Homo sapiens: one gene and its partner. The protein of the gene in region 2 interacts with the protein of the main gene of each other region in a pairwise test. Each region holds a gene or a part of one and is shown on either strand. Other genes may lie near its edges.

Region 1 (3,654 bases), about 26 Mb from region 2:
TAAATATTTACAAAGTAATTTTTTTGAAGGCTTGGATAGTAGAAAAACTTAAGTTTCTATTTATGTACCTCATGTAAACCCAATTCCAATTTCATCACCATTTCAGAAAGATGACGATTTTCTAATTTGAGTGACTCCAGCTGATCCAAAATCTCCTGAAAAGGGGAAAACAGAAAAAAATAAATATAACATGTAAATCACATGCATCTTACAAAATTTTTCCACATGGAATTTTCATTAGGCTAAGTCATATTCTTCATTTATATATATATACATATACATATTTATATATATATATACATATATATATGTACGTGTGTGTGTGTATATATATATATATATATATATATATATATGGACTTTCTAAAAAGATTTTTAAGATGTTATTAAGGTGAATGAACATGAATGGGATGAAGATATCATTCTAATAGGATAAATCAGGTGACAAAGCAGCAAAGTTTCAATCCACTGAACCCCTTAAATCCCTACCCATTCTCCTGTGCTGGCCTCCTCCAATTTGGCTTCTACCTGCAACGTCACATGGAATTGTACTTTATTCACAAAATAACAACTTATATTCAGTTCTCATTCCCCTCAGCTTTTGTGCTTGACCATTCCCATTTGAAAATATTCCTTCTTTCCTTGGCTTGGCAAAAACTATCTGATTTCCCTCCTCACTGCTCCTTTTTTTAAGCTTCATTCCAACATCTTTTTTACACTAAATGAGAAGTATCCTAAGTTTGGTTTGAGTCACTTCTCTTCTTACGCTATGCTTTCTCACTATAATCATTAAGTCTCTCAGGGGGTTTCAAATGTCACCATGAAGAAAGGACAGCCACAGCTAAATGCCTAATCCTGATTTTAATCTTCAACTCCAGGCCTTCTGTGGAATTGACTATTACCCATACAAAATTCCAGCCTTTATTCCAAACAAATGTGTCAAACCAATGTCCTCTCCACCAGTTTCCCCAGTCTGTGTACTTTTCACACAAATTCATCATCCTTCACCAAACTTGCTCCCTGTCTTTTCTCTATTTCATTAAAAAGCATCACTTTCCATCAGTTGCCTAAGTTTAAATCCTGTGGAGCACCATTCCTTAACTCTGCCTACCTCACCTTCCCTGCCAATCAAATACAATGCCCAGTCATTTTTACCAGCCCAGTATCTCCAGAATTCATCCATTTCCCTCTGCCTCCCTTGCCCACTGCTCAGGCCACCATCTTACCACTGTAACAGCATCTGGGTGCTCTGTCTCCCTGCTTATTCTCCATTTAAGGACCACTGAATTTTACTCCTGCTTGCAGCCATTCCCTACTGACCTCAAGGTCACAGTATAACTCCTTTACGTGGCTAACGTAGCCCTTCAGCAGCCAGTCCCTGCTTTCCAGTCTCATACCTTCCACTCATCCCACTTGTACTCTAGTTTCAACCACAGCAAGCGTGTTTCTACTCTCTCTTAGAGACCTCTGTATTTTCCTGTGCCTGAAACACTTTTCCTCCCCATCACCCAGCTTGCTCCTAACTTAGCTTTGCTATCACACCTTCTGGAAGGCCTTTGCAGCGAGTGGTCTAGATTCAGGCTGCTTGTGATCTCTAGTGACTCTCACCATACACCACTGATACAGTCACTTTACTTGTCTGTGTCTACTCTCACCTCCCCACCATGCTCACTAAACTCTTTGCTAGCCAGCATACTCTCAGCTCAAAGCAGGTATCTAATAAAAATTCACTGAATTAAATATTATGAAAATTATGTCTTTAATCAACTCCATCTTTAAAACAAATTTCAAATTTAAAAAAGGTTTTGTTCAGGCTTCACCTTATGCTCTACTGCTTTGTCTTCTGCCTTTTGCATCTCTGCTCTGAGTCGCTTTTCCATGTCTGAGGAAGAACCTTTGGTGGAAGCAATAGTGATATCTCGCTGATGTAACTCCTGAGTTAGATGGGAGATTTCCATCTTCATTCCTTCTAGTGCAGAACTGTAACTTTGTTCACCCTGTAAAATCTGTTCTTTCAACTATAAAGAAGCAGAAAAGAAAGCACCAAAAGTTAAGAGAAAGCATTTAGATAGAATAATATGTTACTAGCTAATAAAATAAAAGTTCACCTTATCTCAAGACATTAAATTTCTCTTAAATTAAATCTGCAGAAAAATTAGCAATTTACCAAGTTGCATATCTGTACTGAAGGTCAGGTGGTTATACCTACAATCATTTATTATACCTCAAAACAGGGAGAGATGGGTTATTCAAGTGCTGAGGACCAGAATCAAGGTCCATGCACACAATTTAGAGGAGAGTACTTGTGACCTTCATTCTTTTTTTTAGTTGTGAATCTAAAAGTTTTGCTCATATGGTATCTTAGTCCACAGGATAACAAATAGAACAAGAGGAAGTAAGGAACTAGAAGTAATCTTAAAGAAGTAACAAAAAATACAAATCAAACAAATAGGACAGTTAGGGCCCATTCATATAGACACAAACAGCTCTGCATACCTCAATAGCTGACAAGGATACTAACTACATCATAGCACAGGAGACAATACATAAATACTATCTTTAGGCAATAAGAAAATATTAAGTGACAGTTCATATTTTTTTGCAAGCAACAGAGTGTATGTCTTTTAGAAAACTTTTCATCAAAACATGTTTAAAATAAAGTTTTTGAGTTCAAAGGGGACAGCCTTCAATTATCTTAAAAATATTTATTGGGCATCAGGGGCGATGCCAAAGAAAGAAGGCACTTTCCCTATGCACATTCCACAAACTCTTCCACTCCTAAATATCAAGTGGTCCCTTGAACTACATTTTTTTCTCATTAAAAATAACCCCTATAATCTCCCAATCCACAGCTTTGTCCATAAACACATACAATTTTGCAATCCTAGGTATGCAGATTTTTACCTTCTTAATCTCTGCTTTGTATTCATTGTTATGTGCTTCCATCCTCTTCAGTTCTTCATATTTTTCCATTAGTTCTTGGCTCAGCTGTTTACACGTTGCACTCACAGATTCCAAACTGTATGACAAAAATAAGATCCCATACTTAAAACCAAAATCCTGAAACCTATAAATTGGACTATCTAATTTACATTCTTGATATCCAAAAAATATCCAGCCAATATCTTAAACATCACCTCAGTCATTTAAAATATTACTAAAAAGCCAATCAATAAAAAAACTGTGATAAAAATGTAAACTGTTGTCCCAACGTCAAAAATAATAAACTTAATTTTAGTCAAACGGAAGAGTACACATATACTTCAATAATAACAAAGACTATCTCAAGTACTCCAAGTATTCCAAAAGGAATAAAGCAGAAAATATGTGTGTGTATGCATGTTTGTGTATTTAACATGTAGATAAAAGTAAGAAAATACTTACTGGTTTCCAAAACCAGAAATAAATGTAAAAACAAAAAATGTATTACTTAAAGATAACCTAAAAAGTGTAAAATGATATTTCTCTTGTTGTTTGCCTAAAGGTTAACAGTTCATGTTAAAAGCAATTTTATCTTTTACATACAGAAAATGTCAGTGTACAAATGATCATGATTCATGTGTTTAAAACAAGATATCACACTCTTCCCAATCAAAAAGTTGAGAGGTTATGAAAAACCAAAAAAAATTCTATAAGTACGACAATGACAAGTGT
Region 2 (3,654 bases):
GGAAATAATTCTACTTTTCACAAGTATTTTTATTTCAATACAAACATTTAATATATATACTGGCACACTTCATTATTAAATTATAATTTTATAAATTTCATAATAGTGAATAGATAATAAAATAGAACTCTAGTACAGTTGTTATAAATATGTATAAAAACATTATAAATCAAAGGTAGTTGCATAAGGCTGATGACATGACACTTCATTTGGGAAACAAAAATATTTCATTCTACTTTGTCCCATCAAAACTGTAGATGCAGGCTTTGGATCAATGGATCTTGGGAATTAAAAAGGAACATATCAATTAAAATAATTGTGGGTTCTTTCATTATATAATTAATGTGATTTTTAACCCTTGCTTTCCTGTTCTGTTTAATCTTTGTTTTCTGAGTTTTACGAAAGTACAACTATTAACACTGATAAAGAAGAGAGAAACCAATAGCAACATAGTTAAAAATAAATATGTTATCCTGAGCAAGAAACCACTTGAGAGATGGTATAAAGAACCCAATGCATAAATAAGTGGATAAACTTAATTTTCACCTAGTGAGCTCTCAAAAACGAAGTCTCTTTTTGGAAAGAAAATAAGTACTAAACTTTATCACTCATGAAAACATTAAGTATCATTAATGAACACAATTAGGAGTTTTCCTTTTGGTTTAAGATAAATGCAGATGGACCTGTGATCACTTTTTTAGATCAAAGACCTAAAGAGTCCTGTCTGTATGCTACATATCAATCATGCGATAGGATTTTATATCTCCTTTGGTGGGTACATCCTCAAAGGTACTAAGGAAAATCATTACTGCCCTTTCCTTTCCTTGATCTCTTGCAGAAAGGAACTTACAGATTTCTTACGGAAATTGAAGGATGCTTATGGAAAATCCTTGTCTGAACTGACATTTGATGAAATTGTTTGCAAGATTTCCCAGTTTATTGACCCCAAAAAGTCTCAGGTAAAATGCAAAAACAACCAAAAAACCTGTATCTCTCTGCCCTTAACTCTAGTAGTTAACTGTTTTAAATATCTCCATAACCTGTTCAGAAAATCAGTAACTTGTAATCATATTAAATCATCTATTAACAGTAAATAACAACTTCAACTTAACAAATGATATCAGAAGTCTTTTTGAAATACCTGTTACCTAATCATTCTAGAATAAAACTGACCTCCTTGAAATTTGCTCTAGTTTCTTTGAATGAGTCTAAAGAGGGAGAGATTTTCTAATTTTCTTGAAAGATTTATTTTAATTAAAAGAATGTATAGAGTTATTTTTGTTTTTACCTAGCTCTGAGTATATAAGTATTGCCACCATTTTGTTCAAGATTTCTCACAAATCTGATTATTTACCCTTTTGCTAGTTCTTACTATACCCCGTTCTGTACTAATGTTTCAGCTCTTACTGTTTTAGGATAATTCTGAAAAAATAAACATTATGTTCTTATTTTCAGAGTCAAGGAAAATCAGTGTCAAATGTTAATTGTGTTTCACCTAGTCATTCTCCATCACAGCCTGATGCTGCCCAGCCCCCAAAACCAGCCTGGAGGCCACTCACTTCACAGGGTCCTGCCACATGGGAAGGAGCCAGTAATCCAGTGAGACTGAAATTTTTGATTCTGAACACATTTAGATTTGGGAGAAAACAATGAGCTAAATTTAACATTTTCTGTATTTTCCCTAGGATGAGGAAGAGGAAGAAGAAGAGCCTTGTGTGATCTGTCATGAGAATCTGTCTCCAGAAAATCTTTCAGTTTTGCCTTGCGCTCACAAATTCCATGCTCAGGTAACACTTTAAATTTTCCCATTAATCAGCTAAATGAGATTCATACTGCCTTACTTATTATCATATACATGTATCATTATCCATTGTTGTCTCACAAGTTCCACTGGATATAACTCTGAGCTTTTGGGTACCACACAGAAACATTTATGCTTTTCCCATACATAGCCATGGATTGCATTGTGCTCTCTCAGATCTCCATCCACCCTACAGAAGAAGGGGACAATGTTGAGAGTCAGATGGTACACAGTAGGCAGTTCCTTCGAATAGAACTGGGACAAATGTCGATTGACGTGGTAGTTTAGTGGCAGAACTAGCAACAGCACCACTTGAAATTGACATGCTATAAATACCACATAGTGTCCTTTGTCCATAATTAATGACAGCCCCCTTTCATAAAGCATAAGATTTATCAGTCTCTTCAGGCTTCTATATTTGCTTTTGAAAGATACTCAGGCTTGAGTTTTGATGTTAGAAAAATGTGAGGCATGGTGGCTCACACCTGTAATCCCAGCACTTTAGGAGGCTGAGGTGGGTGGATCATGAGGTCAGGAGATCGAGACCATCCTGGCTAACACTGTGAAACCCCATCTCTACTAAAAATACAGAAACAAAATTAGCCGGGCGTGGTGGCGGGTGCCTGTAGTCCCAGCTACTCAGGAGGCTGAGGCAGGAGAATGGTGTGAACCCAGGAGGTGGTGCTTGCAGTGAGCCGAGATCGGGCCCCTGCACTCCAGCCTGGGTGATAGAGTGAGACTCCATCTCAAAAAAAGAAAAAGAAAAATATGAGGTTGGCATGTCTTTTGTTGATTCTTGGCATTTATATAGATTAAATTCTGGTGTTACTGCCACACAGTTGCTATTGGTATATAATTAATGATCCAAGTCCTCTGTTGCAGAGATGTAATTTGACACAGGAAAAGGTAGTCATAGTAAAGAAAGGCTTTTCAGGGAAGTAAATAATAGCCAGTTCAGTCAAGCCATGTTTGTAAGACATCATTTCAAAGATATGATATGTGGTACCTGGTACAGAATTATATTTTGTATTTGCTCTAATATGAAGATACATCCACAAAATGCCTAATCCCAAAAGTTTTCTAGGAAAGATCCTTAGCCATTGACTTTCCCCTTTGAAGTTTATAAGGTTCTGACAATTTAGGAAATACATGTTTAACAAAACTTATCCTACTCTTTGCCATTGCCCACAAGTAGAAAGCATATAATTCATTCAGGTCATTTTTTATGACTATAGTTAGTGGGCCTATTATATATAGTGCTTATTATTAATCCTCTCTCATCTGACCTGGCCCTCCATTATTTATATACGTAAAAATGATTTGTTTTTGGAGAGTCAGCATTCAAGCAAGTGACTTAACAGATAGTTCATAGCCGAAAATTACTGTCATTATCGCCAAAGAAAACAATCTGAGAAGTGTATTCATGATCTAGGGATTTTAACTGCAAACACCATAAGCATTTCATACCAGGTACTAGTGACTTTTGTATCATTAGTTATGACTTTTTCTGGATTATAAATGAGAACAGTATATAGTAAACCAAAGAATATAGCAAGTTTCTCCAATTTCCTTGTCAGGAAGGATTGCTAGTCATCTTGAAAATTGAGGTTGAAGGAAGCATTTCTAGTAGAATAAACTGGCTAAAAGGTATTGTGCAGTTACCACCTATTTTGTTTAGCAAACCACAGGGAAGGTGCCATGGTTGCAGCAATTGGTTTGACGATCCACAGCGTAAGGCTTTAAAGATCCACCAGAAGACATGTTGGTTGGTAACCCTGATGCATAGAGTGACAACTGCCTCTGCTAGGCTACATCTGAGAGACTGACATAAATCTTTTTGCTCCTTAGTGCAT

The links. Proteins that work in one complex are often made in the same cells at the same time.
Region 1: the proteins of DZIP3 (region 2) and CEP63 interact in binary tests that used the Homo sapiens proteins (3 or more experiments, as listed by UniProt).

What each region holds. Positions count from the first base shown.
Region 1 is NC_000003.12:134,548,427-134,552,080, reverse strand, and holds part of CEP63 (centrosomal protein of 63 kDa), read right to left. Parts: intron 3,020-3,654; coding exon 2,905-3,019; intron 2,019-2,904; coding exon 1,821-2,018; intron 156-1,820; coding exon 69-155; intron 1-68. UniProt on the Homo sapiens protein: Required for normal spindle assembly.
Region 2 is NC_000003.12:108,687,138-108,690,791, forward strand, and holds part of DZIP3 (E3 ubiquitin-protein ligase DZIP3), read left to right. Parts: intron 1-838; coding exon 839-959; intron 960-1,455; coding exon 1,456-1,599; intron 1,600-1,685; coding exon 1,686-1,787; intron 1,788-3,649; coding exon 3,650-3,654. UniProt on the Homo sapiens protein: E3 Ubiquitin ligase proteins mediate ubiquitination and subsequent proteasomal degradation of target proteins.